Linked DNA regions of Homo sapiens: region 2 is reported to be linked to region 1. Evidence: microRNA targets listed by miRTarBase, many of them from high-throughput screens and not tested one by one. Region 1 holds a microRNA gene; the other region holds the end of a gene's coding sequence.

Region 1 (5,075 bases):
GCAACAAGAGTGAAACTCCATCTCAAAAAAAAAAAAAAAAAGAGGTCAGAGCAAGTGAGCAAGAATCAGTCAAAGGCCAAGAAGGAATAGCCAGTGAGACTGGAGGAAAACAAGACAGCATGGAGAACTGGAAGCGAAGTGAAGAAGCTGTCTCAAGGGCAGGGAACAATTTATTTACCATTGTCAAATACTGATGATGGGTCAATTCAGGTGGCTAAGAATTGACCACTGGATATAGCAATGGGAAGGCCATTTGGTGACCATTAAGTATTGAGGTTCATGGATATGAATTTAAACTAACCAAAACTTCAGGTTCCTGTGCTAGGAGCTATTTTGAGCTTATTCCTGGAGCTATAACAGGAAACCATACCTGTTGAAGTGGAAATACGACCTTTGCCCTCCCTCTCCATCTCAATCACCCGAAGGCCTCTTTCGACATAGCTCTGGAAGAACTGTGAGGAATTTTTCAGAAATGGTTCAATGTCAGCATCTGAGTATTTCTTCTTATATTCATATAACTCTGCTAGTCCCTGGTGAACAGGAAAAGGGAAGAGGTGGGGATGAATGTTAGTGTCCCTTTACCATAAAGCAGACCCCTATTCTGCTTAACCCTTTCACTCTCACCTCTTTAGTGTTTTCTTTAGAGCCAATCTTCTTAAAAATCTCAGCTAAGAAATCATTCACTTTGGCCTTTGATGATTTTTCATCCTGAAAAGTTGAAAGACATAGGAAGAATTGGTTAGACTTGAGTTATTAATTAGGAACTGATGGTTGGATATGAACAGAAAATATCTCAAAATCTGGGCCTTATTGGTATGTTCCTACAGATAACAGATGCACCGATGATGCAGGTCTTGCAGCAGAAGCACTAACATTCTGTGTTACTGAATGCCTCCAGTCTCAGATTTCCACCTCAACTTGATGGAGAAGGAACTGACATATTCTTTCCATGTTAAGCAGAACTAGCTATTTATCTGGTGACCAATGCCTTAGGCATCTTTCTTGGGGACCAAAAAACACATGGTTATACTTAGTTTAGATTTTAAAATTTCAAGGTGGAAATGGTTACTGCACCACAGCAGGAGACTGATTCAACCAGTCCATGAGCCTTCACCTTGGACCTTCGGAAAGCATATCCTGGTGACCTACACCTTAGATAAGATCACTTCCGGTGTAGCCTCATGTCCCTCAATCTTTCAAGTCAGGCCACTCACTATTCGAGATGCTCCCTTTTCTGTTTCCTTATCAGACTTGCTCCCAGTCTGGTCCATACTGTGCTTCATCATCCGGCAGAGATGGGCCTCCAGCTCAGACTCGTTTTTGTTGTCGATCATCGTTAGGTGGTCCAGGATCTGAGGGAGACACATGCATGACTGATAGCACTGCCATTTCCATGATTTTCTCTCAAGCTCCCTCAGAGACCAGTTGCGATTCTTACTCACCTTGGGCCCTTTTAATTTGCATAAGGTGTGTAGCAGGGTCTTTAGGGTCCTTATGGGAAATTCACTTTTGCATTGCTTCAGTTTCTCTTTGGGGAAGACCTTCATGAAAATGTGGATATCCAGAAGAATTCTGTCTAGGTTAATGCTATTGATGGTATCAGGCAACAGTCGAACCATTCTCCAGAGACACTATTGAAAAAAGAATAAAAGAGTTAGGAGTGACTGAAGAATGAGGATAATTTGTCACCATTCATCTTCCCTAAGCTTTGAGCTCACTTCTAAAAGATGGCCAGGGCTATAAATGTGGCACATCATATCTTTCAAGTTCAGCTGCTAAAACATGAAAATTTTTAATCACTTCTACCATGACACCAGCTGAAGTGTGTCCAGTCATTCATCTAATCATCCATCTCTACTCCTTCCCACTCCCCAGAGCTAGGGGCCATCATTTAACCTGGTAGAAATTCTCTCTTGGGTTTCCTTCGTTCCTGAGAGTAAAGTAGTTCATGTTGCTTAACCAAATCTAATGCAAGGGGACAAAATATCTGATACTAATTCAGTGTAATAACAGTATTACAATGTTATAAATATGTTCATTTGGTCTCTTTCACAAAAGAGACCAAATATCATAGGGCTGTAGATATCTTTTTCCCCAAAATAAATGAAATCTGTTTCAAACTTCTTTCCTTTTGATCCTCAGAGAATTAGTAAAATATTTACAAAATATTTCCTCCCTTTCACTGTTTGAGGCCACGAACTGTTTAGGCCTGAACTTAGAATATAAATTGTAGGAAGGGAAAAACTGAAGACCAATTCATATATATATATATATATATATATATATATATACACACACACACACACACACACACACACACACACACACACGTGTATTATATACATATATAACATATTAAGATATACATATATAATACATATATACATATATATAATACACATATATATAAAAAACCATATATATATTTTTTAAGAGATGGGGTCTCACTGTTGCCAAGGCTGGAGTGTAGTGGTATGATCAAGCTCACTTCTGGGTTCAAGTAATCTCCTCAACTCAGCCTCCTGAGTAGCTGCTACTATAGGTGCATGCCACTGCACCTGGCTAAATTTTTAAAAATTTATTAATATTTTTATTACGAAAAATATATTTTCAGGTGTGACTTGGTTGATTTGAGCCTATGTCTTTCTTAGCTCCAATTCCTCTTTCCCCATACTTTTAACAAAGTGATTGCATCTTTGAAAGAAAAGAGATCAAATCATTTCAACTTCACCTTCATAACAAGCTCTGAGAATTTGGGAGAACTGGCTGTTGCTAGCAGGCTGTCTTGGAGCAAAACAAGTAGGGCACTGGAAGAAAAACCCAACACAACAGCATTAAGTTTCAAACCTGCATTCCAATTAGAATCAGCAGTTGAAAGGGCAAGTGAGATTACTCTATTCATCTAATAAACTGAGAGGTCATGGATCAGGAATTGTCCTGGACTACCTGACATTCAGTTAAGAAAATAAACATTGTTTAAGCCTTTTAAGTCACCACTTGGTAAGTGTAAGGTTTGTGACTCTATTTTTCATTGTCATTGGTAGCTGAGAAAGAATAAAATGTACCTGAAATGTACAAGAAAAATGTAACTGACAAACTTTACAGTCCTATTATAGAAAATGCATGATATTGGCTGGCTAACTAAGTATTTACTAGTTTTAGCTATGGTCTCAGGCTAAAATACCTTTGGTCCATGATGAAGAAGAGTAATAAATCAACTTCCTAGGCACACTTAAAGTTTTAACTGATATAGTTATAACTGATGTAGCTATAACTTTAAGTGTGCCTAGGAAGTTGATTATGATTGTTAGGTTGCCTAGGAAGTTGACTTACGGACATTATGGTTTCTAAGTGTAAACAAAAGCGAGGATGCCCCAGGCTCTATTGGCTGAGAGTACAGATATACCTCAGGATGTTGGTCTGGTCTGACTTCTCCAGAACCTTCACCACCAAGAGGTTCACAGAGCGGATGACCTGTTGTCCTTCCTCAAGATCTTCAATCCGAGAATCCAGCATTAAGGTGATGAGGCCATGCATTAGGTCTTTTAGTACTCCAGTGGAGGCCTCCCGGGCAAGGCTCTCTATCTGAAACAGCTATCCAGACATACTTGTGTCAGGGAGGTGTAAAACTCAATATAGAGAGTAAAGAAATGTGGGTGGCATATTCTGATAAATATTCAATTATGTTGTATTTTTTTTTTGAGACGGAGTCTCCTCTGTCGCCCAGGCTGGAGTGCCAGTGGCGTGATCTTGGCTTACTGCAAGCTCTGCCTCCCCGGTTCATGCCATTCTCCTGCCTCAGTCTCCCGAGTAGCTGGGACTACAGGCACCCACCACCACGCTGGGCTAATTTTTGTATTTTTTTTTTTTAGTAGAGATGGGGTTTCACCGTGTTAGCCAGGATGGTCTCGATCTCCTGACTTCGTGATCCACCTGCCTTGGCCTCCTGAAGTGCTGGGATTACAGGCGTGAGCCACCGCGCCCGGCTATGTTATATTTGTAAAAATTCAGAGTATTAAAGAAAAAACAAAATCACCACACTCCCCCAAGCCTCTAGTAATAGGCAAAATTAATCGGTGTGCTTCTAATTGTGAAATTTTTTGTTTTTTTTTTGAGACAGAGTCTTGCTCTGTTGCCCAGACTGGAGTGCAGTGGCACGATCTCGGCTCACTGAAAGCTCCGCCTCCTGGGTTCAAGCAATTCTCTGCCTCAGCCTCCCGAGTAGCTGGGATTACAGGCGCCCGCCACCAGGCCTGGCTAATTTTTTGTATTTTTAGTAGAGATGGGGTTTCACCATCTTGGCCAGGCTGATCTTGAACTCCTGACATTGTGATCCACCCGCCTTGGCCTCCCAACGTGCTGAGATTATAGGTGTGAGCCACTGTGCCTGGCCAAAGTATTTGTTTTTACATGTGAAATTATTTACTGTTATGCCAAATTTGTAATTTCTGGCTAGTTGGTGTCATTAAGTCCACCCTTTTAGCCCCAGTTTAAGAAAGAATATTGAAATCTGAGTGAGAATGTCTTTATTATCCTTATAATCTGCTCTACAGGTAAAACATTAACAAATTTTTTCCCTTTTATTTTTAGTTGACATGTAATAATTGTACAAATTTATGGAATACAGAGTGGTATTTCAACACATGTATACAATGTATACTGATCAAACCAGGCTAATTAGCATTTTTAATAGAACCATACTTATCTGTGGAAAGGCAGCTATGGCCTACCATGCCTGATGAAGAAACTGGCCGGAAGAAGCTAGGTAGTCTGTAAGCATGTTACTTTATATCCTAACAGTAAGGTGGGATGGAGTGTAGCCAAACATCCAATGGAAGCCATCAGTAGCTTGCTATATACAATGCATGTAAAATTCTACCAAGTGACACAGGACTCACTGCAACATCTGCATGGACTCTGGCTTTTGAACCTCTGTAGGCTGAGAGATTGATGGGAAGCTGAAATTCTGCAGAGGTGCCCTTACCGAAATCATGTTGCCAATGATACAGCTATACAACTTGATGATCTCGTCCTTCTCCAATTTCTCATCTGCCATGTGTGTGTTGTAGATGAGT
Region 2 (5,075 bases), not on the chromosome of region 1:
AGGCACATTCCGGGAGAGCTACATCCCGACGGTGGAAGACACCTACCGGCAAGTGATCAGCTGTGACAAGAGCATATGCACATTGCAGATCACCGACACGACGGGGAGCCACCAGTTCCCGGCCATGCAGCGGCTGTCCATCTCCAAAGGGCACGCCTTCATCCTGGTGTACTCCATTACCAGCCGACAGTCCTTGGAGGAGCTCAAGCCCATCTACGAACAAATCTGCGAGATCAAAGGGGACGTGGAGAGCATCCCCATCATGCTGGTGGGGAACAAGTGTGATGAGAGCCCCAGCCGCGAGGTGCAGAGCAGCGAGGCGGAGGCCTTGGCCCGCACATGGAAGTGTGCCTTCATGGAGACCTCAGCCAAGCTCAACCATAACGTGAAGGAGCTTTTCCAGGAGCTGCTCAACCTGGAGAAGCGCAGGACCGTGAGTCTCCAGATCGACGGGAAAAAGAGCAAGCAGCAGAAAAGGAAAGAGAAGCTCAAAGGCAAGTGCGTGATCATGTGAAGGCCCTTCCTGCGGGAGGAGCAGCTGTGTGTCCCCGGCACCTCACTCCCCCAAAATGACACCCACCGTCGTCAGGGTAGCATGTATAATGCCCACGTGTTAAACATTGCATTTAATCGAGATGCGTCCTATTGTCCTTAAGAGGGCGTTTCACACCACCAACAGTAAGCCACCCACTCTGGAGTCACAGAATCTGCCAGGCGGTTCAAGTGAAAACCAACACACTCAGCATCCCTGGGAACTGAGAGGTGCCAGCAATTGCTGAAGGTGGCGATGAACACCCGAAGGTGGGAGGGAGGACTGGTACCCACAAAGCAACATGTACCGAGAGGACTAAATGTCATCTACGTGCATGTGAGAGCGTGTTAACCTAGAGTTACCTGCACCAACCCCAGACAGAAGCCAATCACATCTTTGGGGGAGGGGAGGGGCAGGAAGAGGTGAGAAGATCAGATGGTCCAAAGTGGACCACACTTGGTCCATTTTACACTTTTTTAAAGGGGATTAAAAAACACAGCCTCTCCCCCAAAGGGTGTCCGTTCTTAATTCCCACCTGGCCTGTTAGGAGCCTTGCTACCCTGAGGGGATGTGTTCACCTTACCTAGACCTAGTTAGGAAGTATCATTTTAAGCTATTAGAGTATTTATCTTCATGTGCAGGGATAAGTGCACTAACAGTGTGCTGCTCTGTCGGAAGTTCTTCAGTTTTTAAGTGAGGATATCGTGACAGTATTAAAACATCGCAATAATGTTCCTGTGTGTTATACATCGAGGGTTTTAGAAATGTGATTTTCTTCTTTTGACCTGTGAGGAGTATAACTTCTTTCAGCCCTCAGATTTTAAATACAAGCAAATAAACTCACTATTTTTAGACGTTTTTTTCCTCCAAGGTGGTTTTCTTCTCTTAAATAACTCGATCTGTACCCAGCTGGGTAGCAGCCAGCAAAGGCCATCAGACAACCAGAAGCACATCCATTTTTGTAGTGTCACAAACATGTATATGCCACACTTTGCACCTTAATGAAATACTTTGAAACAGAAGTTATTCACTGTGTTTTTGATGATCTATCTGTATTGGAAATATGTTCCTGGAAAATGCATTTAAATAATAGTAAATTCTCTTGCATGTTCCATTATACGTGTCTTCTAAGAGCTGTTCAATACAGTATTCACTCTAGAAACAATTATCTTTTTCTCTTAATGATTTTGTGTGCATCTTTAATCTTTCAAGCCAAATTACAGCTATTTCAGGTTTCCTGTGTTAGCTTGGGGATAGGATGGTGGCTGGAGACAGGCAGGCTTCTCTGCCCTGGGAAGAGCCCACTCAGCTTAATTGCTCTGCCATCGTAGAGCCTGGTTGGACTTGGCTTCCTGAAAACTCCCACTGATAGTGCCTGTTAGATCTCCTGTTTGTTTCAGTTGGCAGAACATTTACTGGCCCCAACTGTGGCATCATCCTCTCAGCAGTCTTCCTGTCACCCGCCTGGCAGGCAGAAGGAGCTGCAGTCCCACGTGGGCCTGCCTGGGGGGGTGGGGGCTGCATGGCTGTTGGGTGGCAGTGTCAGCACAGGGAGGGCTTAAGTTGGGGATGTTTGACCAGGCCACCTCCTGCAACTGCTGTTTCTCCTGTCCCTCCTATGCAGGGCTTGCAGCAGCAGCAGTGTGGCCATCTCCATCCCCCAAAGCACACTTGCTCTCTCAATATGTCCTAGTTTTCTTCAGCCTTTTCTGGTTCAGTTCCCTTGTCCTGATCTCATCCTCTCTGGTCTCCCAATAACTCACCCTTGGGATGTGTTTAGAGCGTGGGAGGTGCCTTTGAGAACTGCTTGACTCCATGATCTCCTAGAACAAAACCGCCCTGACTTTACAGGGGGAACACTCATGCTGAGCTGAGAAAGCAGAGAAGTGGCGTGGGAGCCAGCTGGGGGTGAAGAGCATTTGGGCCAGTCCCGTGGCCCCCTTCAGATTCCTCAAGCAGGATTGTTCTGTTCTAAAAAGCTGTTGCACAGCATTCGCAATGAGATCTTTAGTTGGCGGATTTTCTGGAACATTTGTTTTTCAACTTGTCCCGACATTTTTTTTCTGTTTCTATTCTGAGAGAGAGATGATCAAGTTTTAATTTGGGTATAGGTTAAATGGAAGAAGAAACAGAACTTCATGGCCAAAGTAGACCTATAGATTTTGATTGGGTTCTTTGTTAACAGTAGAATGCGATCTTTGCCACTGACTGTAGTATTAATAAGGTTTTAATGTGAGATATTCCTGCAAACCATCCCATTTCTACTGATTGTAAGTCAGAATTTCTTTTATCCCTTTCAAATCAGTTTCTACATGTTTAAGTGTTCAGGGCTTCATCAGCATGAGAAGTTTGTAATTACTGAAAGTCTGATTTCATTCAGGACACATTTTTTCCTTCATATTTTTTCTGTGAATTTATAGGCTAGGAAGGCTATTGAAGCCTCAATTATGGGTCTTCATTTTGAGATCGTTTTCTATGAGCTGAACTGAGGATATCAATGGTTATCTCAAAATCGTCTTTTAGGAGATCCCCAATTGACTCAGAGTTTGAGGAGTTAGTATCACAGAATTAGATTTTTTTAAAGCATTTGTACGTTTCCATTCCCAAATATGTAGCTGTGGTTCTTGAAAACACATCCTACATTGCATATGGGCATAGCAGTTTTTGACCCAGGCAGAATAAGTTAATATTTAATTAAATATTGCTTTGAAGATGGCGCTCTGGGCATGAGCATGGGGCTCCATGACTTCCCTTCTATCCCCATGAGCCCCTCCTCCATCCAGCGACAAGCCATGGGCATGCATACAATGCAGCAAGACCAACACAAGAGCAATATTGAATTGTTCATTCTATCTAAAATTACATGTATATAAAATATATAATTTATCTTCCTGCATTTTTGAAGTATAAAGTCATAAATTGTACATATCTGTAAGCTAGTATATTTGTTTCACTGTTTGTAATATTTAAGAAATGCTCATTCTTTGTAGAACAAAAATGTATTAAATATTTTAAAAATTGCTCTGTGATACTTAATTTTTTTCCCCAAAATTTGTAATGTGTTGCTTCTACATAAGTTCTCTGGAAATATCTACAACTAATAGGACACATGTAAATCCTTGAAGACACATCCTGGAATTCATACCCCACAAGGACAGTGTGTATACAAAGTATTTGCAGAGCATGACTTTTATATGTGTGGGATATCAATGTGTATATTTATATTTAAAGTGTATTTATTGTTACAAGTCTATTCTCTATTATATTTTATTTACTCTGCGGTTATAAAAATCACCCTTGCATACAAGTTTCTAGTTGCCAGTGATGTTCTGGAAATAATGGGAGATATTACAATAAAGCTACAGTTATGACACCCTGGCTGGAAGGTGGTGCTATTTCTTAAGGGGTTAGCTGGTCTAGGATGACCTTGACTTGGTGACCCCTCAGCGGCTGTTATGTGCTTATGACCACAATAGGAGGATATCAGGCTCTGTGCAGAACTAGCAATAGGCAACAATAACTCACCCTGGGGTGTCCCGTGAAACTTTCCCATTGCTCCCTGTCTTTGGGTGGAAATGAAGCAGAAGATCCAGACAGGTTAAGGTGAGAGAGGGAAGGAGTAGGGCAGGGCCTTACTTGTGTCAAAATAGAAGAAGTGAAGACAAACTCCCTTCTCTTTTTTTTTAATCCTGCTTTCCTCCACAACCCCAGGCTATTAAATTGTAAACCAAATATAAAATTCTAAGCCCCCCAACTGACTGATGGATGCTTCCCTTGGCCAAGGGCATTCCAAAGTTAACTCAAAAACTAGTTCAGGCCATGATGGGAAGTGGGGATCAGACATGCCTCATTATATCCTACTCCTCTTGGAATTCAGGCACAACTGACCAGCATTAACATTAAAACATCTGAAGAATGATAGACTGTTTGGGTCTGGTAGGAGGAATTTCCTTCTATTGATTCTTTCTGCATAATAGGAACCTTGGTTTCCATAAGCCCTTATCTTAATCCAGACATTCCCTTCTACTGATTCCAGTCTTTAGATAATAATCTAACTCTTTCAACCAATTGCCAATTAGAAAATTCTTGAATCTACCTATGACCTGGAAGCCCCCACTTTGAGTTATCCCACCTTTCTGGACCAAACCAGTGTACATCTTACATGTATTGATTGATGTCTTATGTCTTGCTAAAATGTATAAAATGAAGCTGTAGCCAGATCACCTTGGGCACATGTTCTCAGGATCTCCTGGGGTTGTGTCTAGGATCATCAGTCACTCATATTAGGCTCAGAATAAATGTCTTCAAAAATTTTATAGAGTGATTCTTTTCATTGACAAAATGATGGTGTTTTAAGTCTGGGACAAGCCAATGCCTGAGACATGGAGTTGCAGCAGAGCAAGAGGTTTAATTGTAGGGTCACCCAGTGAGGAGATAGATAGGAGGAAACCTCAAATCCATCTCCCAGAGGGCTGTGGGGCTAGTGATTTTAAGGGTTTTGGAGTGGGCCACAGCATGAAGTGTGGAAATCATTGATTGGTCA

What was found. The annotated mature microRNA hsa-miR-5582-3p reads UAAAACUUUAAGUGUGCCUAGG and lies in region 1 at 3,222-3,243, opposite strand. An mRNA with a match to its seed (bases 2 to 7 or 8) in the 3' UTR can be bound and repressed. Matches are read on the target gene's strand: a 7mer-m8 pairs with bases 2 to 8, a 7mer-A1 pairs with bases 2 to 7 and ends in A, and an 8mer does both.
Region 2: the mRNA of DIRAS2 is a reported target of hsa-miR-5582-3p. Seed matches in the 3' UTR shown: 8mer at 2,624-2,631.

What each region holds. Positions count from the first base shown.
Region 1 is chr11:46,749,904-46,754,978 of GRCh38, forward strand. MIR5582 (microRNA 5582) reads right to left here and starts at 3,289; the gene lies at 3,222-3,289. CKAP5 (cytoskeleton associated protein 5) reads right to left here. Exons shown (of 44, transcript NM_001008938.4): 36 at 4,985-5,075; 37 at 3,407-3,594; 38 at 2,732-2,807; 39 at 1,443-1,631; 40 at 1,215-1,352; 41 at 625-708; 42 at 371-530.
Region 2 is chr9:90,608,667-90,613,741 of GRCh38, reverse strand. It overlaps DIRAS2 (DIRAS family GTPase 2), which reads left to right. Exons shown (of 2, transcript NM_017594.5): 2 at 1-3,910. The coding sequence ends at 514. Among named protein-coding and RNA genes, the nearest start is that of LINC01501, 28 kb to the right of the region's middle. RefSeq lists enhancers at 1-265, 266-766.